2 separate regions of the Homo sapiens genome follow, and region 1 is linked to region 2. The links come from fine-mapping of genetic effects on gene expression. A gene starts in region 2. The other region holds a variant in brackets. All regions are shown on one strand. Distances are from middle to middle.

Region 1 (15,917 bases), 62 kb before region 2:
GATCAGAAACTGAAGTCTGGAATGGTTAAGAAATATGCCCACAGTCACACAGCTGGTAATTGGTAGAGGCAGGATTTGAAAGCAGATCCGTGTGATTACAAAACCTTGCCTCCGTGCTGATTCTCCACAACCCAATAACCCAGGGGTTGTACTGCCAGGACTAAGCACCACTCACCCAAAAAGAGGGTGCCCCCAGCCCAGAGCAGACAAGAAGTCAGTGGCAAAGATCTCACTTTAAGTCCCATTTTCTTATCATTGTGACACTCACCATACCACTGCCAAGTAGTCAAGAACCAATTCTAGGTGTTTGCAAAGATGAGTTAATTATATCTTTGGCTTTACGTAGCAATGCAAGAAAGATGAAATGCAGTGTCTCAAACACAATAGATTCATACTTAATTTCTCAATATTTGTTATTTATGCTAATGATACTAATTCTTTCATCTATTTTCTATTTGATTTTATACTTCCCAGTAATATATACACTCTGTTCATAGTACATCATATTTCTGAATTCTTAAGCAACCATAACACACTGACATCAAAGGCCATTAAAAGGTAATAATACTATGTAAAGTTCAGTAATCAATGCATTTCACATCATAAACCTTGTTCACGCAAGCTTTTAGACTATATATACTGTCAAAACCCTTTATTAGCATTCGGGTGGTAGAAGCTATGTAATCCAAATGTGTAATTTAAAGAGCTTTCTCTGCATTTTGAACTTAAAAGATTTTAAACAAAAAGTTCTTTTTAAATGTAATACAAGTTTCCTAACATATTCTTCACATCTCATCAGCCTGGGCTGCCCTTTCTCCCCACCCCTCCTTTTTTTTCTTTTTGCCACAGTGGTTAAACATGTCTATAAAGAACGAAATTTCCATGCACTTTGTAATACTGAGCTCAAGAATTTACCCAAGCCATTTGACAACAGGTTCTCTCCACTCAAACTGTGCATAAAACATACTAAAAGAAACCTCAGCTTTGATATTTGGGGGGCTTTTCTTAAAGAAGAAAAAAACACCCATTTACATGGCAGTGTTGTCATTAACTTCTATTTCTACCTTTAGCGTATATCAAACTTTCTCATCCTCCTACAAGTTTTGCTGACCTGTTCAACTCAACCACAGTAAAATGTTCTTTGACTCTCATCAGTGATACTTCTTAGGTTGTTTTAACTGGATATTGTCTTAAACAATAATTAGATTTATCTCAATATTTTATTTCAAATGACCTGGGCCCTAGATAAATGTTTCCATACATCAAGCCAAAGTCAAAGTATTTCTATGACAACTAAGATCATATAATAGTCAATTTCTCATTTTATTATTTATATTAAGAGTTCCTAGTTGATGCAATTCAATTTAACCTTTTATTTCTCTAATTCTGGTCAAAATAAATAAAAAAATGGCCAAGGTAGTAATCTCAGTAAATGGTAAAATTATCAAAACAGTTCTTTTTTTTTTTTTTTTTCTTTGTTTGTTTGTTTAGACAGAGTCTCATCCTGTTGCCAGGCTGGAGTGCAGTGGTGCGATCTTGGCTCACTGCAACCTCCGCCTCCCAGGTTTAAGTGATTCTCCTGCCTCAGACTTACCAGTAGCTGGAGTTACAGGCATGCACCACCACGCCCAGCTAATTTTTATATTTTTAGTAGAGATGGGGTTTCACCATGTTGGCCAGGATGGTCTCGATCTCTTGACCTCGTGATCTGCCCGCCTCGGCCTCCCAAAGTGCTGGGATTACAGGCGTGAGCCACCACGCCCAGCCAAAACAGCTCATTCTTTAAAGTCATATAGAACCACTGATTATACTGAGGAAAAGATCATTGATTTAAAAATATTTACCTGTAGATGTGACTAAGAAGAAGCAAATGACCTATGAAAACTTAAAGCATTCACCATACAGGGTTCTCTGTTTTGGTTTATGGAAACAATAGATACAAAATATTAGCATTTTACACACAATATCTGTGCATTATTTTTCCCAAAACCTATAACCCAGAGGGGAAATAAAAACAATTATCATAGAAAAAGAAACTCCCAGTAGGTACTGCCTCTCTTTCCTTTCAGAGAGTTGGTGTTTATATTTGCCTTGTTTCTATGGCATTATGCCCTACTTCCTTTTCTGGGAGGGACTAAAACATGGTAAAACTTGAACCATGAGCACAATTACACAATGCAATAATAATCCTATTTACTTTGGTCTCTATGAAAAAGTTTAGATATTCTCAAAATCAACCATTGTGGTTGATGCACCTTTCTCTCAAGGTAATGTCAGAGATAGAAAGACTTTAGACACCAAGTGGTCTTATTCTCTCATTTGAAAGACAAAGGCAGGAGTGACTTGAATAAGACCATTCATTGAACTAGTGGCAGAACAAACACTTTGAATCAAGGTTTCCTAGTTCCTGGGCCCACTACCATTTATATTTTCTATCATAATTTTCCCTAGCTTTAGAGCGGCAGTTTGAAAACCATGGCTATATAAAGAAACGCTGAAGGAAATTTTGAAATATACAGATTCTGGCCCTATCCCTGATTCAGCAGGTCTTTGTGCAGTTCCTGGAAATCTATATTTTTCAACGCTTTCTATCATTACTCTGATACACAGTCAGTGTTGAGAACAACTGTGGTTTAGATCAAGAGCGTAAGCTCTCCTGGAACTGTGGCGAATCCTAGATCCACAGCATCCTACAATGGGTTTTCAACCCTCATCTTCCTCATTTGAGCGTGTTGAAGAATATCTGTAGTCTCAACCATAACCATGCAAGCAAGCCCTTTTTAAAATTATTATTAAGTTCCAAGATACATGTGCAGAACGTGCAGGTTTGTTACATAGGTATACATGTGCCATGGTGGTTCGCTGCACCCATCAACCCTTCATCTAGGTTTTAAGCCCCGTATGCATTAGGTATTTGTCCTAATGCTCTCCCTCCCCTTGCCCCCCACCCCCCAACAGGCCCCTGTGTGTGTTGTTCCCCTCCCAGTGTCCATGTGTCCTCATTGTTCAACTCCCACTTATGAGTAAGAACATGTGGTGTTTGGTTCTCTGTTCCTGTGTTAGTTTGCTGAGAATGATGGCTTCCAGCTTCATCCATGTACCCACAAAGGGCATGATCTCAATTCATTTTTATGGCTGCAGTATATTCCATGTTGTATATGTGCCACATTTTCTTTATCCAGTCTATCATTGATGGGCATTCGGGTTGGTTCCAAGTCTTTGCTATTGTAAATAGTGCTGCAACAAACATATGTGTGCATGTCTTTATAATAGAATAATCTATAATCTTTTGGGTATATACCTAGTAATGGGATTGCTGGGTCAAATGGTATTTCTGGTTCTAGATCCTTGAGGAATCGCCACACTGTCTTCCACAGTGGTTAAACTAATTTACACTCCCACCGACAGTGTAAAAACGTTCCTATTCTCCACATCCTCTCCGGCATCTATCCTTTCCTGACTTTTTAATAATCGCCATCCTGACTGGCCTAACGCGCGGCGGATGCGGACAGGCCAGCGCGCGACACCCCCGGAGTGGGTGGTCACGCGCGGGCTTGGGTAACGAGGACCCCGGCGGGTGGCGGGAGGAAGGAAGGAAGAGGGACAGCGCCGGACGCGCGGGTCCAACGGCCCCCTGAGCACGCAGGCAGACAAACCCTTGTGTGGAGGGCTCACTTTCAATAGATGGCAACGAGGAATCTGCTCTGCTACTCACGAAACCCTGACCCAGAAACAGGTTGCCTAGGAATGGTTTAGCGCCAGGTTCTTCACGAACGTGTTATGCATGATGGGCGAGGGGGTGGCTGCCTTTCTGGCCGAGGCCAATTTTCCAGGATGAGGGGCTCTCCGCACCGGATCCCAGTCTGGCTCTCATTGTGGTTTTGATTGGCATTTCTCTAATGATCAGTGATGATGAGCTTTTTTTCATGTTTGTTGGCTGCGTAAGTGTCTTCTTTTGAGAAGTGTCTGTTCATATCATTTGCCCACTTTTTGATGGGGTTGTTTTTTCTTGTAAATTTGTTGAAGTTCCTTGCAGATTCTGGATATTAGACCTTTGTCAGATGGGTAGATTGCAAAATTTTTCTCCCATTCTTTTGGTTGCCTGTTCATTCTGATGCTAGTTTCATTTGCTGTGCAGAAGCCCTTTTAAACTTTTTTTTTTCCTTTTCCTTCAAAATATCAAACTCACATATAGTTCACAGATTGAGGAGAAAGTTACTGGACTCCCTCATGCCAAATTTCAACGTTTGAGTGGGCTTGCTTCCTGCTTCCTACAAAACCAAATTCAATTTACTCTCTGATGTCAGTTTTTGACACAGCTGTTTAAAGCATTTTTTTTTCATTACTGTACATACATTTCCTCATTCCAGGTTGTCTTTATGCTTTCTCAAGTTATATAAAGTCTCTTTTTGGCAAGCACATGCCAATGAATTATCTTTCTTCTTTTCTCTATTCAGGTTTTCTGTGCATCATTATCAGATATAATGATGAGGCCAGTGCTGTGAATCCGGCACAAACAGCAATTAAGACAGAAACAACAGCGATGTTATTTGGACTTCCTCTCTATTCCCCAGAATAACTGTCCAACTGAGTTCAAAATGGACATCAGTTGGGAATGTGTAAAGCAGCCAAAAGAACAGGCAGGTTCAGCCTATGCCTTTGCCCAAAATTCTTAGAACAAGATAACAGCGTCGTATCTCTGGCTTTGTGGTTTTTTTTCCTCTGTTAAATCTGCCTGGAAAATTCCAAACATCCAAAATTAAAACAACCATGACAATAACTTTTGTAACACAATTGAATCAAATGAAGTAAATATATGGAATTATGAAAGGAATTTAAAAACAATCTGAGAATGAAGTCTCCATCACCATCAGAGAACAGGAGGTAATAATATCCATTTTTTGGAGGATATTCAATTCTTCAAATCACTGAGGAGGCCAGATATGAGAACAGAAAGAATCTATGAAAATGAACTCTAGCAGCTGTTCCTCCTTGATTAGCTACCAAAGGAAATCTGGAAATTTAACATAAATATACTGCTTTTCAGGATCAGCCAATAGCTAACATATACAATTGCTGGAAAAGAAATTAATTTAACTTATACCAAACTAATCCTTTCTGGTGAGATCGCAAGTTAGGCTTAATCAGAATTAAAACAAATTTCAGGAGTACAAAATCAAATTATCCAGCCAAGTACAGTAGCAGCCCACTCCTTAAATGCTATAGTTGAGTTCCCGAAACTCTCAGAGTACCCATGTTGGAGGAATTTAAGACTTTTTAGGAAAAAATGAGGCAAGGACATGAGTATTATGAAAGCCTAGACAATCAGTTTGTTCACCAAACTAAAACAATAAAATAAATATCATTGATATTTTATATTAACAAGAGTGGATATCAGGCAATTAACTTCCTTTGTGATCTCAAGATGAAGATGATAATGGATCAATGAAAATGCTTGGTCGTAACAATAGTAACAGGGAAAGAATAGAGAAAATTGCATTTCGTCTGAAGAGATGTAAGCTCAGTCTTCTGCTCCTCTTTCATCCCCAGCACACAAATCACCATATCATCAGAGCCATCAGAGTCTGAATCCCAAGGTTTAACTATCTGTGTGCGGCGTTTCTACTTCCTGTTTTCCTGTTTGCAGAACGGGTTTGAATGACATGGCCTAATGTCAACCTCTTCTCCCCTGTCAAGTAAGCAGAGAGAAAATACTTATCGGTGTTTGTTTGGAAGTTTATTACTACTGCTTTATAGGATTGTAAGTAATCATCTAAGCCTTACCTGAAAGTCAATATGTAGCCCACCAAAGGATCTCTTTCTTTTGAATCATTGTGACAATTTCATTTGTGGAGTAGATACTTGAACATTCTTAGAGTTCTGGATGTTAACCTATGCTGGCTTCTTCTATTGCCTTTTGATGTGATCACATCTCCAAAATATTTCTCAACTATCTTTTGAAGGTGAGAGTCTAACAATTCAGTAATGTCACTTAACTCAATGTCTTCAAGGCCTTCACTATTCAAATGGTTTGCAGATGTTACAATATTTTCAATTTCTTCTACCACTGGAAGGAAACCTTCCAAATCAGTCACAACCTCATTCCAAAATTTCTGCCAGACTTCATTAAGTATTGATTGTTTTATTTGTCTCACTGATTCTTCTACACCTGTTAAAGCATTACAAACGGAGAAATGTTGCCAAGCCACTTTCATGGTAAAGTTCTGGTGTCTCTGATAAGATCTTCAGGTAGTCAAAATACATGCAGAGCACAGTACATCGCTAGCACTCTCAGATGCAAGAGTTGAAGGAGTGGAGTCGTACTGGGGGTAATGGAGATGACTTGAACACAAGGAGCAGCATTTATGACTGCATTTTTGTCTGTAGGAGCAGTGTCCAGAATCACAACACTGTGAAGTCAAGATTTTTTTTTCATTTAAATGTTATTTAACCTCAGAACAAAACACTTCAAAGACCAGTTCAAAAAGAGTTTCTCAGTGATCCATATTTCATGGTTTCCCTTCATGTACACAGAAAAGTGTTTCTGGCTTTCTCTTTAAAGAAGGTAACAATTTTGGAATCTGTAAAGCAACATGGGTTTAATCAGAACACACTGGAACAAAGCAGAACTTTGAGTTTGTCTTTTCCAGGCTTGAAGCCTCTGGTCCTTTTCTCATGCTTTGCAATAGATGTGCAAGTAGGCATTTGCTTCCAGAGTTTCAGCAGCACTGACAACCTGCTCAGGCAAATTGCCATTGTCCTCAATCGTCTTCTTCAGGTATTCAGGATACTCTCCGGCAGCTCCTTAATCTGCTTCCTCTGACAGTCACTTCTCCACTTCTTTTCATTACAGGCCACAGCTTCTCTTCTCTTCTCTTCTCTTCTTTCTTCTCTTCTCTTTTCTCTTCTCTTCTTTTCTTTTTTTGAGACAGAGCTTTGCTCTCGTCACCCAGGCTGGAGTGCGATGGCACGATCTCAGCTCACTGCAACCTCTGCCTCCTAGGTTCAAGCGATTCTCCTGCCTCAGCCTCCTGAGTAGCTGAGATTACAGGTACCCGCCACCAATCCTGGCTAATTTTTGTATTTTTAGTAGAGACAAGGTTTCACCATGTTGGCCAGGCTAGTTGCAAACTCCAGACCTCAAGTGATCCACCCACCTGGCATTTCTTAAACCTACCCAACCACCCATTACTTGCAATGAATTTTATAACTTTCCATCCAGATTGAAATTTAAATTTGCATTTTTGTGATGCTCACTGGCAGATTTTACACACAGAAAGAGACCTATTCAACCTTCTCTGTTTTAGAAGCCACAAGTGCAAATCTCTTTATATTTTCCCTATTGTGGCATTTTGAGTTGTGTATGATTTTCTCAGTGATTCTTGTGTGCCCCCGATTCACTGGCCCCAACTGCTTTCTCAATTTTCTTTA[T/C]TGTATGATGTGTAGGTTCATTAACACCAAAAATATGCCCTAGGAAGTGTTGCTTTCACCATTATCAAGCATTTAAAGAACTTTCATTGTGTTCGCTATTAACATAAACTTTCTTGCCCTCTTTACTCTTCTTGCATCTCTATCATCCCTCTCCTTGTTCTTTTGCTTGCATGCCATTCTCACCCCTAACTCACGCATATTTACAATGACTGCAAGTTGTATATCAATGAGAGTACACAATATTAATTTGTAATACTTAAGAACCAAATGATAAAATTCACAAGACAAATAAAAAGGCTAACCAGTTTTTGTATGACAACACGTGTGTGATCAATGGCTGCAGAGGCAACAATAACAAGCAGAAGAACAAGAGTAGAAACAAGTGTAACCCAAATGTTGGTCTTCTCACAGGAGGTAGCAAGAAACAGGATGGTGACTTGAACTTGCATATCGTTCCAAAGCTCTCAAAGGCGCGGACTTAGGGAAACTCAAATTTTGTATGATGGTGACTTGCAGTTGTGAAGCGATCGTGGAACTCAGGAGTCAAGGTCAGGCTATCACGCTGAGGTGAGAAGCACACCATCTAGGAAAAAGCAAACATAAAAATAGGAAATGAGGTCAGGAACAGAGGCAATCTAAATGAGTAGCTTATAAATTTGGAGTAATAAAAATATATGCCAGGGCCGGGCATGGTGGCTCACGCCTGTAATCCCGGCACTTTGGGTGGCTGAGGCAGGGGGATCACGAGGTCAGGAGTTTGAGACCAGCCTGGCCAATGTGGCGAAACCCCGTCTCTACTAAAAATGCAAAAAAATTAGCTGGGCATGGTGGCACATGCCTATAATCCCAGCTACTTGGGAGGCTGAGGCAGGAGAATCACTTGAACCCAGGGGGCAGAGGTTGCAGTGAGCCGAGATCACACCACTGCACTCCAGCCTGGGTGACAGAGTAAGATTCCGTCTCAAAAAAAAAAAATATATATATATATATATATACACACACACACATATATGTATGTGTGTGTGTGTGTGTGTGTGTGTGTGTGTGTATATATGCCAAATTGCCCTTGCAAAGGTTGTACCAATTTGTATGCTAAAAGCAAATGACAGTTCTTTCCTCTCATGTACTTACCAACATGACACATAATCAACATTTGTGACTTGTATCAATTAGAAGGTAAATCACAAGGTATCTAATTTTTGTTTTAATTGATTTCTTTCATCACCTTTCCTCTTTAAATACTTGTTCTTATCCTTTTTCCACGTTATATTTTTTTCTTACTGATTTATAGGTACTGTTAACATTTTAGAGAACTTATTTTTAATCCTCTCTATATTGCAAATATTTTTTCCGAGCATGTCATTTACTTTCGAATTTTATTGCTTTTGTCTTTTGCCATAAAGTTGCTTCAAGTATTTATGTAGTCAACTGTTTCTGCCTTGCTTTGAAAAGTCTTTCCCCCAATAAGATAATACAAATATGTTCACTTATTCATTTTTAATATTTTTACAGTTGTCTGGTAGTATTTCCGAACATTAAGGAAAGGATGGACTACTCAAAAAATGGTGTTGGAATAAACATCTGACTATCCATCCACAAGTGTCTGGAGTTCTCTCCCAGTAGTCTTTTTTCTCTCTAGAGCCTGAGAGTTTCTGGTAGTGCCATAACTCCTGGGTAACCAGGTTGAGTCCTCAAGCTGATCTTAGTTGATCCCGCAGTTTCTTTGGGTTAGTGTAGCTTTGAGAGGAAAATGTTTTCAAATAAATAATTACTATCTATTTTGTTGTCTTAAGTTTTGTTCGTCTACCAATCCATACTACGACTCATATCAAGTGAACAACAGTACCAAGTTCTCGGATCTCAGATCTTCTGATAACGCTTCACTAATAATTAATAAATAAATAGTCACTCATAGTTTTGGAAGAACTGAGGGAATCGGAGCATGAGTAGGCTGTTAGATGACATTCGGCCACTGCTGTTGATTCTATTGGGTGCAGTAATGGAACTGTGGTAACATAAATAAATATATGTTTTGTCGAGGGAGGAACTGAAGCAAATAGATATACAATGTTATCAGTAATTTATTTTATGGAAAAATGTTAACAATTTTTATGTTGTTGTTTTGAGATGGAGTCTCACTCTGTCGCCCAGGCTGGAGTGCAGTGGCGTGATCTTGGCTCACTGCAACTGCCTCAGCCTCCGAAGTAGCTGTGATTATAGGCGTGAGCCACCACACCTGGCTAAATAGTTACCAATTTTTAAATCCAGGTGCTTGGTGGGCATTATAATTAGCATACAATGAGCAGTGAGGACGACCAGAGGTCACTTTCATCGCCATATTGGTTTTGGTGAGTTCTGGCCGGCTTCTTTACCACATGCTGTTTTATCAGCAAGGTCTTTGTGACCTGTATCTTGTGCTGACCTCCTATCTCATCCTGTGATTAAGAATGCCTTAACCTCCTGGGAATGCAGCCCAGTAGGTCTCAGCCTTATTTTACCCAGCCCCTACTCAAGATGGAGTCACTCTGGTTCAAACGCCTCTGATGCCACCTCTTCCAGGAAGCTTTCCCTGATCCCTCCTGCTGGCTTTGAATTGATGATGGAAACTCTCAGAGCCTTCCTCCAATGCCTACTCTGATTACAGCACTTAGGATATTTCACTATAGTGCCATCTGTTTCCCTGTGTTTTAATCATTTGGGAATGCCTTGACGGTAACTGGAATAGAATAGGTCCTCATTTTATAGCATAAATGTTTATAGTACAGAAAGTAAGACCAGCATGCAATGCTCTCAAAAGGAGTAGCATTTGAATGGGACCTTGAAGAATGGGTAGAATTTTTAGGGTGTGGAGGAGAAGGCAAGCAGGTGGAAGGGACAAAGGCGGAGGCACGAAATTGCTGGGTACGCGTGGAATTAGATGAGGGATGAAGCTGAAACAAAGGACGGCTGAAGTGGGCAGTAAAAATAAAACTGTAAAAGATTTGTTGAGGCAAATCATAAAGGGCTTCAGATGCCAGATTTCTTAGATGAGGTGGAGTTGTTTAGCTGTCTTGATATTAACGAAAGGGTTTATGTTTGCAGTGAATAAAACAGCAGATATTTAGGATTAATCTGACCTATTCTTCCTTGTTACTAGGTTTTGGCATACAAAATGTATGGAAAATTTGCTTTCATGGGGGGGGTGGGGTGGAGAAAAAACCGAATTTTATTAGATGCTATGGAAATCAAATGGGATTTTAGAATTGCCACTTGCAAATAGAAGACAGAATCTAAGACTGAAATGGAAGACAGCTGTAAAACAACAGGACTGGTCTAGAAAGATGTAAAAGCTGAAGCAAATGTAGATGAAGGAGCAATTGGGGCCTATGAGGCCCTCCATGATCTGGCCCCAGACTGTTAAAATAGTTTCCTGACTAACTTTGCCATAACCAAGTCCACCCTCATAGCCACCAGCTTTTTATTCCCCAAACAGTACCTCTGCTGTGTTGTGCTTACTCAATAAGCCTTCTGAACTGACCATCGGTGACCTTGTCCTAATTCTTGCTTCCTGCATTTGTGGGCACTACAAGGCACCTTCCCCAAGAAAGGTTCTCTGGAAAGACTAGTTTACTTATTGGCTCCTGACCAAAATCACATTTGTACCTCTCCTCACACCATTCCTTCTAGTTGGAATGCTCCCTCTTTCCTTTCTATCTATGGAATCTCATCATCCAACTCAAGTCCCATTCATTCCATTATATGACCATCAGAAAGACATGAAGCCTTAGAGGCAGTAACTAGGTCCTATACTAATATGTATTTGTGTATGTATATTAGTACAAATATATATATAATATATACAAATATATATACTTATACACTAATCTATACATATACAAATATATATAATATATTTTATTATATATGATAAATATGTTATATATTTAATTATATATTTAATTAAATATATATTTATTATATAATAAATATATTATATAGTATGTATATTTATTATAGATTTATTATATATAATAAATATATTATATAGTATATATATTTATTATGTGATAAATATATATTTATATATAATAAATATATAATATAGTATATATAATAAATATATAATATAGTATATATATTATATGTGTTATATATATTACATCATTGATTAATTCAGAGGCCCAGAGAGAGGAAGCAGCAGTGCTCTTTCACAGCTTCTAAGATTACTATTGCACTTCTATTGTATAGGTACAGAATGGATGTGTTAACACTAACCCTTTTGTTACAGTCAAATCTTCTTAACATTTCATTTCCTCCTTGGTCCTGAGGTCTTCGATCTACCCTTGAATGAAGCATTATCAAAGGAGAAAGGGAGTAAGGTCAAGGAAATGGAACTAATATGTTTTGATGTGAGCACTCAGTATGTGGCAAACCCTTTACAACCTGATCATATTTTGGCCTTACAACATCCTTGTATTTGAAAAAGCAGAAGCTCAAAGATGACATGTGGCATGTCCAAAGTCACACAGCTAGCGTCCAAGCTCCAGACTCCAATATCCATGTTTTTTACACTAAACTAAGCTGTTTTCCCTTAAAATGAGTAGCTGTCATTCACATTCTGGAGCATGTGAAAATTCTGTCATGGAGCTGCGTTATGGTTTGAATGTCTGTCTCCTCCAAAACTCATGTTGAAACGTAATTGCCACTGTAACAGTATTAAGAGGTGAGATCTTTAAGAGGTGGTTAGGCTCCACCGTCATGAATAGATTAATGCCATTCATGGGAATGGCATTTCATGGGAATGGATTCCTTACAAAAGGGCAAGTTTGGCCTCTCTCTCCTTTGCCATGGGATGACACAGCAAGAAAGCCCTTGCCAATTGTCAGTCCCTCAGTCTTGGCCTTCTCATCCTCCATAACCACATGAACAAATTTCTCTAATAAATCCCCTCTCCTCTATCTATCTATCTAGCTAGCTATCCCATTGGTTCTGTCTCACTGGAGAACTCTGACTAATACAAACTAGTTTATAGCTTGTCTAAAAACTTCAGAGAAAAGATGTCTTCAAAATATTCTACTCTGAGTAAGAGACAAAGAGTGCTTCATGAAATTATTCAAGAATTCTCTTGCATAGCCAATGTTTAAGAGGCGTAAGTTACTAAATGTGCATAGAACCACTTCTTTAAAATTAAATAAGCAATATTATATGCAAATGAATCTAAGCAGCTCTAGAGCTAAACAATAAACTAAGGGGAAATTAATGCATCATGTTCAAATATTATTAACAAAAATGGAAAAAAATAATAGGTAAATAACACTAATAAAGTGAATTTTTCTGGGCCAGGCACTGTTCTAGCTGCTTTACATATATTAACTCACTTAATATTTAATACAACCCTATGTGTTAGGCATTATTATTATTATTTTATAGATGAGGAAATTGAAGCTCAGACAAGTTACATAATCTGTCTGAGGTCACACATTTATTAAGCAGGAAAGCCCAAAATGTACAGCTATGCAATCTTGCTCTAGATGACACACTCATCCATTACAATGCACTTGAAACTAATGATGTTAAGATTTTTTCTTGCAATTCTTAACTGCTCAAAATCATCCTAACACAAGAAACTTCTGGTTAAATAAAAAAGAAGGCCTCCACCTTTAGAAAAGATGTATGATAATACCTGTAGCATAACAATGAGCAAAAACCATCTTAAAATAAAACACCCAGAGTAGCTCATAGGTTCTAACACAAAATGTGAGTCTAAGTTTCTACAATATGAATTTTCTTTTTGTTCCACATATTCCTATCAAAACGGTAAGAAATAAATTAGTATCGATACAACTCTTCCATTAAATTTCTACAAATATTACCTAAACATAACGAACAGATTTCAATTCTAATCCTACTCAGAATCATACACATTCTTTCTTTGTTATTTCATTTATGATAATTAATTATACATCTTTTACATTGTTAATTTTTAAATTCCCACTGCACGTAGAAGCATATTTTACTGGAGACTTCTATGTAGAAAACTGAATTGTACATTATAAGATCACATGACCATGCATATCCCAGTTTTCATTCTTCCAAATGAGTAATATAAATTCACAAATCAACTTTCTTCATTTGAAAATTTAAGTATCATCCCTATGAGCAAAAGCCCTAACTACTTATGTTCGAAACAATTGAGGGATATGATGCTGATATTTATTATCACATTTATTTTTTGTTCTTGCTATTTTAATCTTTGATTGTTATGGAACATCTTCACTCTCTTTCTATGGTTCAATGGGTTAACAACCAAATAGACATCCATCAGTTTTTAATAATAATCTATTTTTCACATTAAAATTTCATGGAAAATCGTTCATACTTCTTACTGGATGGAAGTTTTTTAAATAGCTCTGAAAATTCACCACCAAAAACAGTCAAAAAAGATTCTATGTAGCAACAGTGCCCTCTGCTGGCTACAGCGTGGAACAGCTAAACCAGGCCTATAAGAAATCCAACAGCTAAGGGGATCTGCCGTGACCCCCGTTTGGCGATGCCGACAATGACCGTTCTGCCCACCTTTTCCCCATTCCAGGTTAAGTAGAATTTGGCTTGATACCTCCTCAAGGGAAGCAAACTCTGTTTAGCAGGCCAGGGATCACATGTGCCCTTTTCTTCCTTTTGAAGAGCTGGTCAAGCCCAAAACCTCAAAAGATTTTAAGAAAAGGCACACGGATTTGAACAATCGTTTCCTGATCTTCTCCAGATCTTTTACAGATCTTCCTCTTACCTCATTTTTCACTGGCCCGCATAAGACAAAAAGAAGCATTTATAAATAAAACCAGTCCATCCCCTACTCCGGAGCTACTTGCCCCCCTTGTCGCCTCCCTTAACGGTAATAGCAGCAAACAATTCAAGATCAGCATTAAATGGCTCTAGGGGTAAGAATTGAAAACCCCTTTTAGCCAGCACCTAACAGTGTCTAGTCACTTACTAGGAGAGGTAAATGGTGCTTCCTAAGTTATTGAGTGTGATCCTCATTAAAGGTGCTTGTATCATTGCAACTTCAGACTGAACTGCCATACCACCAAATACACATGGGAAGCTAGAGAGGAACAAGGAATCTCTAAGCATAGAGGCGTCCCTCTTCTAGAAAAACAATTCCAAAAGCCGTTCCCTGCTATTTGTAGTTACTTTAAAGATTTTATACTCAATTCAATTATTGAAGGGGTTCCTAAATACTAATTAAGGGAGTGCAGTTTCCCCTCGAACTTTGCTTCTGTGGGGATCGGGCGGTTCCAATGCAAAGCTTTGCAACTTGGGGCGGCTGCATAAGCTCTCAGCTTTGGGCTACTCCAAAATCCACGTTGACCCCAGGGCCTCGGTGAACAAAGCACTGGGCTGCGCTACTTGAGGCTCAGTCCCTGCCCCTTCCCACACAACCAGGAAGGCGTATACACAACGAAAACCGGAGGTCTACTACGTGGCACCACGGAGAGGAGGGAATCACTTCAGAGTTGATTAGCTGCGTCGGGGATTCGGGTGAGGCAAGTGAGGCTAAGTCGTTCAAGTGCAAGGTCTGAGCTTGCCCTTATTTAATATTTCTTATCTAGCTTCTTGCGGAATTTTGGCTATAACTTTGAATTTTAAAGAGACTGCATGAACAGTTTTATCTTGATTACTGAGTATCTTGGTGCCGCCTTAAATTTTGCACCCGAGGCGAGTGCCTTGCTCGTTTTGCCCTATTTACCACCGTGGTGATTGAGTGAGGGCGATTTTCCAGCTACCGAAGGGGTAAAAGATAGCCCGGAGGAGGAAGCCGGGAGCCGAGGCAGGAGCCCTCAGGATGGGAAGGAGGAGGAGGTCGCAGAGGTGGGCTCTGACTGGCTGGCTGCGAGCCAGCGAAGACGCTCCGCTCAGGGAATTTGTGGGGCCGCCAGGGAAACAAGCTTGGTTAAAGCGGAATACGGGAAGGAGTCGGCTTACCGGGTCTGGCTGCTCCGAGCCACGCAATCTCCTCTCCTTAACCGCCTCCCCTCTCTGGGGAGGACTCGTCTCGTCTTTGCAGTGTGCCTACTCCGATGCAGTGCCGTTCTGTGCCACGTTGTCACCCGGCTGCTCTCTGGAGAGACCCGCCCCTGCGGATGGCCTCTCCAGCATTCGTCGGCTCCTGACTCGCCACCCTCTGCACTGGGCGGGGTCGCCCCCTTACCCCACTCCCTAAGGAGGGGAGGGCTGAATGCTGTCACTTCTGACCTAGTTGCAGTATGCCAGGGACTCTTCCTCAGTTACACCACTCACCCCCACCCCCACCCCCACCCCCGCCCCCGCCCCACTCCGTCTCTGCAGCGGAATTAACCAACTCAAGTCCAGAGCGGTAAGAGACCCTCCAAGGGTCTGTTGGTTATTCAATAACTGTAAAAGTCGTGGATGGATTCGATCATAAGGGCGTCAAATCTTAAAACTGGAAAAAACATCCGATTTGGAGAGTATTTAACATTCAATATCTG
Region 2 (15,917 bases):
TAAGCTTTTAACCATTGTAGAGCAAGTTTTATATCATGTGGGTTGAGACTAGATGAGTTGAGGCTAGTCTTTGTCTTGTGCCAGTCTGGGCGTTGTGTGGTATTAGCATTGTGGGCGTGGGTTTGCTTTGTGGGAGTCTGGGTGTTTTCGTGCAAGTCTGCATGTTATGGGATGAGTGTGTGTGTCTGTTGTGATATGACGCTGTGCAGTTGGGATGGTTTTGTGTTTAGGGGTGATCTCTGCATGTTAGGACTTATCTAGGTATTACAGAGCAAATCTGTGTGGTATGGGGCCTGGTCATACGTGTGGCAGTGTTCGGTAAGTCAGATTTATGGGCAACTTAGGCGATGTGGGGCATGTAGTTCTTTATGGGACAAGCATGAGGTAAGTGTAAAATGCGTTGTGGCCAGGGGCGGTCGCTCACGCCTGTTATCCCAGCACTTTGGGAGCCTGAGGCAGGTGGATCACGGGGTCAGGAGATCAAGACCATCCTGGCCAACATGATGAAACCCTGTCTCTACTAAAAATACAAAAAAATTAGCCAGGCATGGACGCGCCTGTATTCCCAGCTACTCGGGAGGCTGAGGCAGGAGAATTGCTTGAACCTGGGAGGCGGAGGCTGCAGTGAGCCGAGATTGCGCCACTGCACTCCAGCCTGGGCAACAGAGTGAGACACCGTCTCAAAAAAAAAAATGTTGTGGAATGGGGGCTCTGTGTTATCATGTGATGCTGCCAATTTTAGGAGCATGTATTTAGGAACATGTTTGTGAAGAGCAGGGGTATCCACATGTTGTGAAACAAAAATATGTGTGATAGGGTGTGTTTGTATGATGTAGGGCATATCTATGAGGTTAGGATGTGTGTGTGTCTGTGTGTGTGTGTGTGTGTGTGTGTGTGTGTGTGTATGTTGTGGGCCTGTGCCTTGTGGGGTGAGGTTGGGTACAACACACAGCCTGGCTTCCAGTCTGGGTATTGTGGGATGTGTTATAGAGCAAGCCTGTGCACAAATTTGTTACTAGTGATGCAATTCTGTGTGTTGTGAGTGATATCTGGTTAGGGTTCTGGTCTGTAGGGTATGTGGGTACTATGGCGGGGTGTCTGTGTGCTGTCGAGTGTTTCTAGACGTTCTAGGGCTAATCTATATATTATATGGTGAGCCTTCTTGTTGTCAGATGATTCTAGATATCTGGGGTAGGCCTTTTTTGTTTTGGTAGTAATGATAGTGATGGTTGTAATATACATTAACAATTCTAATAGTCACTATGTACCAGGCACTGTACTAAGCACTTAACAAATCTTAACGTATTTATTACTCACAACAACTCTTTGAAGTAGGCACTACTCTTATCTTTGTTTTACAGTTGCACAAACTAAAGAACAAAGAAATATACTTACCCAAGGTGATACAATCAGCAAGGGACGGGACCTTGATTCAAACCCAGTTAGTATGGGTCTAGAGGCCTTGCTGGTAACTATTACACAAGCTGTATTTCTGTTGTTGTAGGCCAGAGTTGTAGCTCAACAGCATGGAAAAGCACGTCTGTCCACCGTGATGGAAATCTTTACATTGTAGGAGTAATATGTGTGTTGTGTGTCTAGCCGACTGGGAAATGTTTATGTGCACTGTCAGTTTTGCACTGTAGAGTAAGTCTGTGTTATGATGCAATTCTGTGCATTGTGGAAGCAATCTATGTGTTTACACGCATCACTGTGAATCATAAGGCACATCTAAGTATGGGGGATGTGATTTAGTATGTTACAGAGTAAGTCTGTGCCCTGAAGGGCTTGTCTGTACATTTAGGGTGAGTCTCAGTGCTCGGTGGTGTTTGTGTGAGTTGTGAGGCAAGTATGTATATTGATAGGTGAATCTGTGCATTTTGGTGAATTTCTGTGCATGGCTTGGCATCTCCTGTTTTGTAGGCAGCAGCTTGAGCAGTGAAAACGGTCTATGTGCTTTGGGGTAAACCTAAGAGTGACATAGCAAATAGTTTCATATATTTTGGGATACATGTTTGCATTGTATAGGCACTATAAGAAGTGTTTTTTGTTGTTGTTTTCTTGTTTGTTTCTTTCTTTCTTTCTTTTTTTTTTAGACGAAGTCTCACTCTGTTGCCCAAGGTGGAGTGCAATGGCATGATCTCGGCTCACTGCAACCTCCACCTCCTGGGTTCAAGTGATTCTCCTGCCTCAGCCTCCCGAGTAGCTGGGACTACAAGCATGTGCCACCATGCCCGGCTAATTTTTTTGTATTTTTAGTAGAGACGGGGTTTCACCATGTTGGACAGGCTGGTCCTGAACCCCTGACCTTGTGATCCGCCCGCCTCGGACTCCCAAAGTGCTGGGATTACAGGCATGAGCCACCCACCTGGCTGTGTTTTTTGTGTGTGAAGTAAATCTGTATGGCAAATGTGTGCCTGACATTTCTGAGCACTGTGGGCTTAGAGTGTTATGCTGTGGGATGTGTTTGTACGCTGTGGGTTGCATCAGTATTGTGGGATGGGTGAGGGTATCCTGGATCACATCTGTGACTGTGCCCAAAAGGGTGGGTCTGAATACCTTAAAGAAAGATTAGGTGTCTCTACAGCCTGAGTGTGTCTGTTGTAGAATAAATCTGTTGTAGAGCCAGTTTTTCCTGCTATGATGCCAAGCTGTACATTGTCAGGTATGTCTATTTATCAGAGTGTGTCTGAGGAGTTTGAGTTGTATTTTGGTGATGCAGGGACACAGCATGCATTGTGTGGTAACTCTGGGGTAAGGTCTAGATATTTTAGGGCAAATGAGTGAACTCTGGAGCAAGTAATTGTTTTTTTTTGTTTGTTTTTGTTGCTGGGTTGTTTTTTTTTTTATTTTTTTATTTTTTTTGAGGCAAAGTTTTGCCCTTGTTGCCCAGGCTGGAGTGCAGTGGCACAATCTTGGCTCACTGCAACCTCCGCCTCTTGGGTTCAAGCGATTCTCCTGCCTCAGCCTCCGGAGCAGCTGAGATTACAGGCATGCACCACCATGCCCGGCTAATTTTGTATTTTTAGTGGAGACGGGGTTTCTCCATGTTGGTGAGACTGGTCTCGAACTCCCAACGTCAGGTGATCCACCTGCCTAGGCCTCCCAAAGTGCTGGGATAACAGGCGTGAGCCACCGCGTCCGGCTGGAGCAAGTATTTGTATTGTGTGGTGAGTGTGTCTTTTGTGACATGAATTTGTGCACTGTAGGACAAGTTTGTGTGCTGTGGCACAATTGTGTGCATCAAGGAGTGATATATGTTGTAAGATGTACCGTTGCATGTCTCTGTGGTGGGGTAAACTTGTCTGAAAGCTATAGGGAGAGTCTCTGTAGTATGGGTTTAGTCTGTGCTTTGCGGGGTGACTCTACGTGCTCTGCAGAGTGTCTGTGTGGTGCTGGGCAAGTCTGTGTCCTGAGGTGATGGTCTGTGGCCTATGGTGCTTGTCTGTACACAATGGGGTGAGTCTGTCTGTTGTGGGAGAGTCTTTGTGTCATGATGCGGGTCTTCAAGCTGTCTCATGAGTCTATTCTCGGGAAAGTCTGTTTCATTGGCAAGAGTCCCTGTGCTCTAGGACGAGTCTATGGTCTGTGGTGAGAGTATGTGATGTCAGGGGTGTCTGTGTGCCCTGGGGAGAGTCTGTTTGCTGTGGGAAGAAGCTGTACACTCTAGAGAAAGTCTGTGTGCTGTGGGGTGAGTCTACTGGCCTTGAGAGTATGTGTGCTTGTCGGGGAAGCCGTGTTCTATGGGGTAAGTCTGTATGCTGTGTGTTTCCTAAAATGGGTTCGTGTGATGTGGGAACAGTGTGTGATGTTGGGATTGTCTGTGTGTCATAGTAGAGTCCTTATGGGGGGGCAAGTCTGTGTCATGCGGGGTGCATCAGTGTGCCTCAGGTGAGTCTCTGCATTAAGCAGTACATACGTGCCTCTGGGAGAGTCTAATGATACGGGGATTGGGGTGTCCATGTGTTCTGGGGAACATCTTTTTGCTGTGGTGCTTGTCGGTGTGCCTTTGGATATGTCTGTGTACTGGAAGGCAAGTGTGTGTACTGTGAGAAGAGTCTAGGTGCTGTGGGGGTAAATGTGTTTGTGTTATCTGGTCAGTGTGTGCATTAAAGGGTGAGTTTGTATACTGCGGACACAAGTCTGCTTCCAGGCAAGTCCCCCTTAGTATCTACAAATAATAATAGACAACACTTACATAATGGTTACTATGTGCCAGACACTGTTCTAAACATGCTGTTAGCATCCCCATTTTACATCTGAGGAAACGAAGAGATTTAAGTAACCCGTCCCACAGTCATGCAACTAGCAAGCAGCCGAGGTCTGAAACCAGGCAGTCTGTTTCCTGTTCTCATACTATTATGATTCCCCTCGGGGCCCTGAGGGCATCGGTGGCCTCAAACCTTAGAAAGCCTTCGTGGTCACTGGTGAGCATATAGAGAGCAGTTAATTTGGGAGGAAAGAAAAGGAGTGGCTAAAAGCCTTCCAAGCTTTATTTAAAAAAAAAAAAATGCTCCATATACAGTAACGATGGCAGTTTAGCTCAGAAAAACTGACGTCATGTCTGCCAAATAACTCCAGCCACTGCGGCCCTCAGGACCCCTCCCCTGGCCCCACAGCCGCATTCTGCTACTGCAGTGGAGCAAATGCGCATGCACTGGCGAGCTGCCATTGCCAGGGAAACCAGCCTCCTCATAAACAAAACACAGTCTAATGCGGCAAGTCAGGAAACTACTGGGACTGAGGCTGTGAGCCAAAGGAGCCCCTTGCAATAACCGCAGGCAAGGCAGCCTCCCACTCACGCGCCATCCTCCCCCCGCCCTTTTTTTTCCCCCCCAGAATCAGTAAAGCTAAGAGGCCCGGTGCAGAAGTCAATAGAGAGAGAAAGCTTCGTTGGGGGCCCGGGAGAGGGTTGGTAATAGGTAGCAAGTGATTTTAATTGTCAGATTTCTCTGGGCAATATTTAACCCATCTCCTACTAAAAAACTCCTTGCCTTATGTCTTGAGCCTTACACCTGCAGTGAAAAGAGGTGGCTCACTGGGGTGTGTCCCTATCTAGAAGAGGTAGTGGCAGTGGTGGCATGGGTTAGGACTCACCCTAGCTCCTTTAAATCCCTACATGAGACTACGGCCAGCAACAGGCTGGCAAACATTATTTACTTCTACTCCTCATACATTTCTTGTATTTCCCTCTTATATCATTCTAGAAAATTCCAAGAACTGAGTCGAGCCAACTTTAACTCTTTGAGTATCTGAAGAGTAAAAAAAAAAAAAAAAAAGAGGTTGAAGGAGGAACTTTAACCCCGGGGGTATTTTTTTTTTTAACACACAATTGGGATATCAGGTGCGCCTAAGAGGAATAGCACACCTGAAACCGTGGTTTCATATATTTGGATTCCTTAATTTTAATTTGCAACAAGAATGTGACAAACTTAACATATTTAAAATGAAAAAAAAAATCCTGTTTAAAATACTGCCCTAATCTGCATGTGCCTAGGATTTTTGAAACGCACAAGCACAAACATGGTGCTCTAGTATGCTGTCAGAAGCTGCAGGAAGGTAGGAGTACCATTGCAAAATGTAACCATCTTGGGTAAAGAGAAAATGGCCGACCTGTGGAAAGCTACACCCTATCTAATGGAAGAACAGTTGTTGCGTTGGATTATTCAATAAGTGATGCTGAAACAATCGGTGACCTATTAGGGGGAAAAAAAATTAAATCCTACTGTATACCATATATCAAAATGAATTCTAGGTGGATTAAGGAGTTAATTGTAAAAAATGAAGCAATTAAATAACTAGAAAAAAATACAGGTGAATACACTAATCAAAGGAAAGAAAAAAATCACAACACTTAAAATGGTCAGATATGGAAATCTAACATGTAAAACTGTAAAATATCAAAAAATCACCACCATAAATGGTAAAAATTAATAGGAAAACAATGGCTGGAAAATAATGTTTATACCACATATAATAAATAAATTAGGTGATAGGTGTTGGGGGGAAGAAACCTTAAATTGTTTCATACCATTTGATCCAGGAATTCCATGTCTACGAATTTTTCCTAGGGAGAAAAAACCAGAAAAGCACACAGATATTTATATGGAAAGATATTCCTTCAGTTATTTATAACAGCAAAAATAATGCACATATAAACATTCAATAATTGGACATTTAGTGGGACATCTATATGATAGAAAATTATACATCCACAAAACACCACATTCTTGTGGAATATTTTAAAATATGGGGAATTGCTCCCAATATATATTTAATGGATCAAACAGGCTAAAAATTGTATGTACATGTGATCTTCATTTTGTATAAAATATATATTTCTATGCATTTATTTGCATATATTCAGAGAAAAGAGACTGACAGTAATAAGATTAATAGTAATTATCTCTAAGTTACGGGATTATGGGTAATTTTTATAATCATCTTTACATTATTCAAAATTTACTACAATGACTATGATATTTTTATAATAAAGGGGAAAACATCATTTTTAATATTTTAGTAAGTGTATAAAAGCACTGGAAGCACAGAGAGGAAGGCGTAGAAGCAAAGACAAAATACCAATATACACCAGTGGAGGATCACGCAAAACGAGCTCATTATGTACTACAGAAAGATTATAGCATTATTTGCATGTCAGTATGTATAGAATGTCTTATACAAGATGGAGTCCTGGCAAATTTTCTTCGCTACACCAGAGAATGGTCACATGTCCCTGGATGCGTCAGTCACTCTCTTTGCCGCAGTGCTCTGTTCAACACCCCCTCCCTTTGCCTCCAGTATGTTCTCTCCCTTTCCCTCTGCAAAACATGCTACCAGCAGACATGTTCAACTTGGGAAAATGGCCCATCTTGAGGACTTTCTTTTAAGCTTTTTCATTCTTATTTTTCCTCCTTGATTGCTGCTGCTTTGTCATCTAACTCAAAAACGAAATCTATTTATCTATCATTTTTCTTTTCCTCACGTTCAAGGGCCAGTTTGAATTTCAAAGGAATAAACCACCACTTCACTTTTTTTTTTCGTTTTTCTTGCAGAAACAGAGCTACAAAAGCTCTGTTTTCAGGAATGTTTCAGAAACAAACATTAAAGCTTCGTTGATAAGAATCTCTGCTATCCATCTCACATCCCTTTTCAAAAAAAGAAGCACCGAGAACACTCTTGTCTTTACTGTATAAATCGCTGTCCAAAAATACAAATTAATTTTTTCCAATGAAAGCACGATCATAATATTCATTATTACTTTTTCATGATTTTTTCATCCTAAAGTCAAATTTTAATGTTTCTCATTGAATACACTTTCATATCTCACATGAAGCAATCAATCTGAACATTATTACAAACTGCCCTCTTCCTCATTTTCTCTCTAGTACAGACATCCCGTCACACGACTTTCTTAATTTAAAAAAATGAGGCATCGTATCCTTTTCTGCATTGCAAAGTAATATTTTTCTTATGCTCTCCCAGCACTGAGAAAATAAACCAGGTTTGAGAACATCTTGAATCATAACCCATTTCATCACGTCAAATACAAATATCGTAAAGCTGAGGTACAATTCTGAAAGCAATTCTCCAATTTAGTAACATCTTCATTAAATCTTATTTTAGGAAATATTTTACAAGAATCACAAGGGGAAAGTTTCTATATTGCCTCCTAGCAACTCCATCATTTAAGAAACAAGCTTTAAACTAGAAAAATGACCAGGGAATATTTAGAATTTAATTAATCCATTTCCCAATGCTGCTGATTAGAATCAGAGATTCCTACACAATTTTGCATTATTCTATTCCCTCAAAACATGTCGCTTGCTTTAAAAATCTTAGTCTGGATATCTATTTTACAAAATATTTCTCAGCTACTTACCAGTGGCATGCTGTCTCCCCACCAGCTCTGAGGCTGTCTGTCGCACTGAAGGAGTGGGGGCAAACAGCAGCGCAACAGCCACTTGGAAATGAGATGTACTCTGAAAAAAAGGGATTATCCCTATGGAAAGAAATGAAATGCCTTGAGATTATCCTCAAAAATTCTCCAAAAACATGAAATCATACTAAACATTATATGCTAAAATGTGCATGCTCTTCAAAGGGCAGATTTTAATAGCTAAACCTCTAATCCAAAACACACTTAAGTTGCCTTGATTTCCAGAGGAACCCCTACAAGACTATGAGCTTTTGGCTCTCCCGTCTCCTAGCAACAGTCTCATTAACTTTTTTTTTTTTCCTGCAGTGGTCCTACTAGGCATCAGAGAACATTGACAAGGTCTAGTCTCTGAGGATGAACATTACCATTTTGTTGTTCAATATGTGTTTTCTCCCAGGCAAGTAATAAGGAAAGTTAGAAATTCAAATAACAAAGTCCCCAGAAGATTTCTGATTCAAATGACATTCCACAATGAAAAGCAGAAAATTTTTTGGTTCCCTCACTTGGTACAATGCTGTCGGTAGAACCCTGTTCTAATATGAATGTGCTCAATGCTACCAAACTGTACAGTTAAAATCAAGTGGAAATTTTTTGTTACATATTTTTCCTACAATAAAAAAGAGAGAAAGAACGATTCATTCACTCCACAAATACGTGTCGTGCAACAAAATGAGGTATTCCTGTAATACCACAGTCAAAATATGGTGGTGGGGACAGGGATTATAAAAGTGAATAAAAAATAGTCCATCCTCCCTTTATAAGTTCATAAGGTAATAATATGCACAGGCTGCAAAATAGAAGTATTTTGTCGAAGTTATTCTTTTTTTCATCAGTTTTGGGTAACGTTATCATTAGAATTGTTACATAATCTGCCCCAAAATACTGGACTCCCGATGGGTGGAAGAAGTAAAGAAACACATATATAATGTTAAAATATACAAACATATATTCGTACATCTCAACTGATCATGCACACTTATCTTTACAGTGTAGCTTTTAGAAAATTTTTACTTCTATTTTCACAAATGTATTCACTTCAGAACAACTTTTCAACATTACATCATTACATAAACTGCTTTTAAAACTAATTTAATTTCTGCCAGATAGGAAATATGTGGCAATCCAGTTCAGTACCTTATAATAAAAAAAGATCAGTACCTTTATTATGTATTTATTATAGGTCAGGCACTTTTCTAAGTACCAGGTGATGAACCTGAAAAGACTAAGTAACAGAACGAGGATACCAACCTTTCTTACTTAAAGCTCAAGCTCCTCATCACATCATTGAATCACAAACATCAGAGTTCTTCTAAATCACCTGGAGTGTTAATTTTTTAAAATGAGGACTAAAGGGACCTATTCCCAAGTATTCTGTTTTGGCAGGCTAGGGACAAGCCCAGAAATCTGTATTTTTAACAAACGTCATCATTTGGTTCTGACCAGAAAACTTAAATATAATCTGTATTATTGGTAATGTTATTGGAGAAGTAAATTCTAAAACTATGACACATACATACATACACACACACACACACACACACACACACACACCACGTGTGTATATTCTGCATGGTTAGAACAAACGAGTAAATGCATTTTTTGGGGGTATTTTTGGAACCAGAGTTCTCACTATAGGAGAAAGGAGATACAAATATGAATCTGAGAAAGTGAAGAGAATCCTAAAGAAACCTTTGGTGACGGATTTGAATCGGAATTTTTAGTATGAACTCATGATTTCCTAAGACAAATCTTACTAGGTCTGTCCACAGAAAGGAGGCAATGACACTCCAGTAGCAATTAATATGACACACCAGCAGCAATGAGTACATCTAATGCCCAGGTATTAGTTTCTAAATACTGTTGTCTACTAAAAGAAACCAAGGTTTACTGGAAAAATAGCTGACGCTATACATGGGGCAGGAAAAATACAAGTGAACTTGAAGTATCTTGTATTATAAGCCAAAAAGCACTTGAAGAATGATGAGAACACATCAAAAAGACACAGGAGATGTCTTGAAAGGGCTCTCACTGGCTAACTCTGGTACAATTTGATCATCAAAAGGAATAATAATGGTCGTTGACTATAAAACATAGAATAAAAAAATCCGTGAGTCCACAGTGATAGTAAAAAAGAAAAAGTGGTAATGGAGAGGGTAACTGCTTTGTTCTAAAAGAATAACAGAAAAGAAAAGAAACTGCTTTTTTCTAAAAGGAGATATATTTGTAAGGAATGACAGAATTTGTAACTGACCATTTAGAAACCTTCAGTATAGGCCGGGCACGGTGGCTCATGCCTGTAATCCCAGCACTTTGCCTGTAATCCCAGCACTTTGGGAGGCCGACACAGGTGGATCTCCTGAGGTCAGGAGTTCGAGACCAGCCTGGCCAACATGGTGAAACTTCGTCTCTACTAAAAATACAAAAATTAGCTAGTCATGGTGGCAGGTGCCTGTAATCCCAGCTACTCGAGAGGCTGAGGCAGGAGAATTGCTTGAACTCTGGAGGCAGAGGTTGCAGTGAGCTGAGATCGCGCCACTACACTCCAGCCTGGGTGACAGAGAGGGACTCCGTCTCCGAAGAAAAAAAAAAAAGAAAAAAAGAAAAGAAAAGAAAAGAAACCATCAGTATAATAACAGGTTTAGGCAAGAATCGTCAATGCATACCAAAACCATTAGGCAAAACACCGGGGAAGAGAATATTCACAGGACTTTTAAGTATTGCCCATAGGCTACTAATTAAATATAAAAGAGAAAAATGTGCATTTTCAATGGAGTGATTTGGAATACCCCTGCCTTAACTGATTAAACTTCATGTCACCAATAATAGCACAAACTGAAATGTGCCTTTTGATGTGATGAAATGGGAAGCACACGTCATCTATTTAAGTACTAGCCAAAAATATTTTATCTGAAGAATCAATCATTAAATCCAGATTGTGGAACAATCTAGAAGACAGCTGGCCTGAACCATCAAACTATTTTTAAAAAGTGGGAGGGCAGGGAAACTATCCTAGATTAATGAAGATTAAAAAGATACAACTACCAAATGCAATGTAGCAATAGGTTAATCATTGGTAAATCTAGGTCAAGTATACACAGGTGTTCACTGTGTTATTTTTTGAGCTTTTCTGTAGGCTTGAAGTATTTTAAATGAAAAAAAAAATTAATGGCCTGGCGCGGTGGCTTATGTCTGTAATCCCAGCACTTTGGGAGGCAGAGGCAGACGGATCACCTGAGGTTAGGAGTTCAAGACCAGTCTGGCCAACATGGTAAAACTCCATCTCTACTAAAAATACAAAAATTAGGGCCAGGCACGGTGGCTTACACCGATAATTCCAGCACTTTGGGAGGCTGAGGCAGGTGCATGACCTGAGGTCAGGAGTTCGAGACCAGCCTGACTGATATGGTGACACCTCATCTCTACTAAAAAATACAAAAATTAGCTGGGTGTGGTGGTGTGCGCCTGTAGTCCCAGCTACTTGGGAGGCTGAGACAGGAGAATTGCTTGCACCCAGGAGGCGGAGGTTGCAGTGAGCCAAGATCGAGCCACTGCACTCCAGACTGGGCGACAGAGCGAGACTCTGTCTCAAAAACAAAAGAACAACAAAATTAGCTGGGCATGGTGGCAGGCACGTGCCTGCTATTGAGGAGGCTGAAGTGGGAGAATCGCCTGAACATGAGAGGCAGAGGTTGCAGTGAGCTGAGATCGTGCCACTGCACTCCAGCCTGGGCGACAGAGTGAGACCTCACCTCAAAAAAGAAAAAGAAAAAAGAAAGAAAAAGAAAAAAATTATTAAAAGGTAAATTTAGAAAATAAAGAGGAAAATACTTTCAGAAAAAGAATTATTGCACAATAATTATATTTAAAGTTAAAATTCATATACATTTTGAAATTAATGATAATCAGGTTTGTAATTCCTAAGTTAGAGAAAGAACTTTCCATACTGACCAGATGGAGGATGAACACAACTGGTCTTCCATATCCACGAGTTCTTCATCTGTGAATTCAAAATTGAAAATATTTTTTAAAAATCCATCTGCACTGGACATGTATAGACTTTTTTTCTGTGTCATTATTCCCTAAATAATACCATATAGACATACCTCATTTTGTTACACATCACTTTATTGCACTTTGTAAATCTTGCATTTTTTACAAATTTAATGTTTGTGGCAACTCTGCATCTAGCAAGGCTATTGGTGCCATTTTTCCAACATGTGCTCACTTGGTGTCTCTGTCACATTTTGGTAATTCTTGCTATATTTCAAACTTTTTCATTATCATTATATCTGTTATGATGATCTGTGATTAGTGATCTTCGATGTTACTATTGTAATTATTTGGGGGCGCCATAAACTGTGCCCATATAAAAGGGGAACTTAGGCCAGGTGCGGTGGCTCACACCTGTAATCCCAGCACTTTGGGAGGCTGAGGCAGGCGGATCATGAGGTCAGGACCCAGCACTTTGGGAGGCCAAGGCGGACAGATCATGGGGTCAGGAGTTCGAGACCAGACTGGCCAACATGGTGAAATCCCGTCTCTACTAAAATACAAAAAAAAAAAAAAAAAAAAAAAATAGTTGGGCATGGTGTTGCGTGCCTATAATCTCAGCTACTCAGAAGGCTGAGGCAGGAGAATTGCTTGAACCTGGAAGGCAGAGGTTGTAGTGAGCTGAGATCGTGCCACTGCACTCCAGCCTGGGCAACAGAGTGAGACTCCATCTCAAAAAAACAAATAAAGGGGGGAACTTAATTGATCAATGTTGTGTGTGTTCTGACTGCTCTACCACCCTGCTGTTTTCCCATCTCTCTCTCTCTCTTCTAGATTTCCTATTCCCTGAGACAAAACAATAATGAAATTAGGCCAATTAATAATCCAACAACGACCTTTAAATGTTCGAGTGAAAGAGTCCTCCCACATCTCTCACTCTAAATCTAAAGCTAAAAATGAATAAGATTAGTGAAAAGGGCATGTGAAAAGCCGAGACAGGCTGAGAGCAAAGGCTCTGGCACCAAACAGCCAAATAGTGAATACAAAGGAAACACTCTTGAAGGAAATTAAAAGTGCTACTCCAGTCAATACACGAAAGATAAGAAAGCGAAACAGCCTTATTGTTGATATAGACAAAGTTTGAGTGGTCCGGATAGATCAAACTAGCCACAATATTCCTTTAAGCCAAATCCTAATCCAGAGCAAGGCCCTAATTCTCTTCAATTCTGTGAAGGCCCTAGCCTTCGTCTCCTAAGAGGTGAGGAAGCTGTAGAAGGAAAATTTGAAGGTAGCAAAGGTTGGTTCACAAGTTTAAGGAAAGAAGCAGTCTCTATAGCATAAAAGTGCAAGGTGAAGCAGCAAGTGCTGATGGAGAAGCTGTAGCAAGTTATCCAGAAGATCTAGCTAAGATCATTGATGAAAGTAGCTACACTGAAGAACACATTTTCAGTGTAGACGTAACAACCTTCTATTAAGAGAAGATGTCATCTGGGACTTTAATAGGTAGAATAAATCAATACCTGGCTTCAAATCTTGAAATGACAGACTGGATCTCTTGTTAGGGATTAATGCAGCTGGTGACTTTAAGTTGAAGCCAATGCTCATTTACCATTCTGATAACCCTAGGGCTCTGAAGAATTATGCCACATCCACTCTGCCTGTGCTCTGTAAATGGAAAAACAAAGCCTGGATGACATCACGTCTATTTACAGCATAGTTTACTGAATATTTTAAGCCGACTATTGAAACACACTGCTCAGAAAAAATAAGATTCTTTTCAAAATATTGCTGCTCAATGACAATGCACCTATCCACCCAAGAGCTCTGATGAAGGTGTCCAAGGAGATGAATGTTGTGTTCATGCCTGCTAACACAATATCCATTTTGCAGCCCATGGATCAAGAAGTAACTTTGACTTTCAAGTCTCATAATTTAAGAAATAAATTTCATAAGTTTATAGATGCCATAGATAGTTATCCTTTGATGAATCTGAGCAAAGTCAATTGAAAACCTTCTGGAAATAAATCACCATTCTAGAAGCCATTATCAACACTTGTGATTCATGCTATTAAGAACATTTGTGGCTGGGCACGGTGGCTCACGCCTGTAATCCCAACACTTTGGGAGGCCAAGGCGGGCAGATCAATTGAGGTCAGGAGTTTGAGACCAGCCCCGCCAACATGGTGAAACCCCATCTCTATTAAAAAATACAAAAATTAGCTGGGCGTGGTGGTGCACGCCTGTAATCCCAGCTACTCGGGAGCCTGAAGCACAAGAATCGCCTGAACCTGGGAGGCGGAGGTTGCAGTGAGCCAAGATTGTGCCACTGCACTCCAGCCTGGGCGATAGAGCAAGACTCAGTCTCAAAAAAAAAAAAAAAAAAAAAAAGAGAACATTTGTGATCCATGTGATTCATGGGAGGAGAATATCAACATATTAACACGGGTTTGGAAGAACTTGATTCCAATCCTCATGAATAACTTTGAGAGGCTCAATACATCAGTAGAGGAGTTACCTGTAGACGTGGTGGAAATAACAAGAGAACTAGAATTAGAAGTAGAGCCTGAAGATGTAACTGAATTGTTGCAATCTCATGATAAATCTTGAATGGATGAGGAGTTGCTTCTTACAGATGAGTAAAGAAAGTGGTTTCTTGAGATAGTATCTTCTCCTGGAGAAGATGCTGTGAATATTATTGACATTATTACAAAGGATTTAAAATATTCCATAAACTTAGTTGATAAAGCAGCAGCATGGTTTCAGAGGATTGACTCAAATCTTGAAAGAAGTTTTTTTGGTTTGTTTGTTTGTTTTTTTCGAGATGGAATCTTGCTCTGTCACCCAGGCTGGAGTGCAGTGGCGCAATCTTGGCTCACTGAAACTTCCGCCTCCCGGATTCAAGCAATTCTCCTGCCTCAGCATCCTGAGTAGCTGGGATTACAGGCACTCACCACTGCACCCGGCTAAGTTTTGTATTTTCAGTAGAGACAGTGTTTCACCATATTGGCCAGGCTGGTCTTGAACTCCTGACCTCATGATCCGCCTACCTTGGCCTCCCGAAGTGCTGGATTATAGGCATGAGCCATGAAAAAAGTTTTGCTGTGGGTAAAATGCGATCAAATAACATCACATTGTACAAAGAAATCTCTTGTGAAAGGAGGAGCCAATAAATGTGGCAAACTTCATTGTTTTTTTTTGTTTGTTTGTTTTTGTTTTTGTTTTTGTTTTTTTTCAGAGAAAGGGTCTCCCTCTGTCACCCAGTCTGGAGTGCAGTGGCATGATCTCCACTCACTGCAACATCAACCTCCTAGGCTCAAGAGATCCACCAACCTCAGCCTCCTGAGTAGCTGGGACTACAGGCGCGTGCCACCACGCCTGGCTAATTCTTTTTGTATTTTTTGTAGAGATGGGGTTTTACCACGTTGCTCGGGCTGGTCTCAAACACCTGAACTCAAACGATCTGCCCACCTTGGCCTCCCAAAGTGCTGGAATTTTAGATGTAAGCCACTGCACCTGGCCTCGTTGTTCTTATTTTAAGATATTGCCACAGCCACATCACCCTTCAGTAACCACCACCCTGATCAGTCATCAGCAATCAACATCAGGCAAGACCCACCTTCCACCAGCAAAATGATTATGTCTCGCTAAAGGCTCAGATGATTGTTAGCATTTTTATCAATAAAGTATTTTTTAAGTTACGGTATGTACTTTTTTTTAGGCATAGTAGTATTGCACATTTAATAGACTACGGTACAGTATAAACATACCTTTTGTATGCACTGGGAAATCAAAACATTTGTGTGACTTGCTTTACTGTGATATTTGCTTTATTGCAATGGTGTGGATATTGAACTGAACCTGGGATATCAGCAAGTTATGCCTACGTAACAACCATTTACATGGCATTTACATTATCTTAGCTCTAATACGTAATCTAGAGATCCTTGAAATTATACAGGAGGAAATCCGTAGGACATAGGCAGACACTACG

Alleles and levels. Positions count from the first base shown, and alleles are read on the strand shown. Sizes are in standard deviations (SD) of each study's normalised expression.
For the expression in tibial nerve of the gene that starts at base 7,926 in region 2, allele T in region 1 goes with a higher level than allele C (small effect, 0.19 SD a copy in GTEx).

What was found. PIP is the estimated chance that this variant, and not a neighbour inherited with it, causes the effect.
Region 1: its variant is fine-mapped to the expression of LINC00632 in tibial nerve (GTEx, PIP above 0.99). The same link has a PIP of 0.9 or more in subcutaneous fat.

The regions. Positions count from the first base shown.
Region 1 is chrX:140,764,175-140,780,091 of GRCh38, reverse strand. It overlaps LINC00632 (long intergenic non-protein coding RNA 632), which reads right to left. Exons shown (of 5, transcript NR_173140.2): 4 at 7,734-8,014. Among named protein-coding and RNA genes, the nearest start is that of LINC00632, 62 kb to the right of the region's middle. The variant T/C (reference allele first, on the strand shown) is at 7,432.
Region 2 is chrX:140,701,768-140,717,684 of GRCh38, reverse strand. It overlaps LINC00632 (long intergenic non-protein coding RNA 632), which reads right to left and starts at 7,926. Exons shown (of 5, transcript NR_173140.2): 1 at 7,880-7,926; 2 at 6,029-6,064.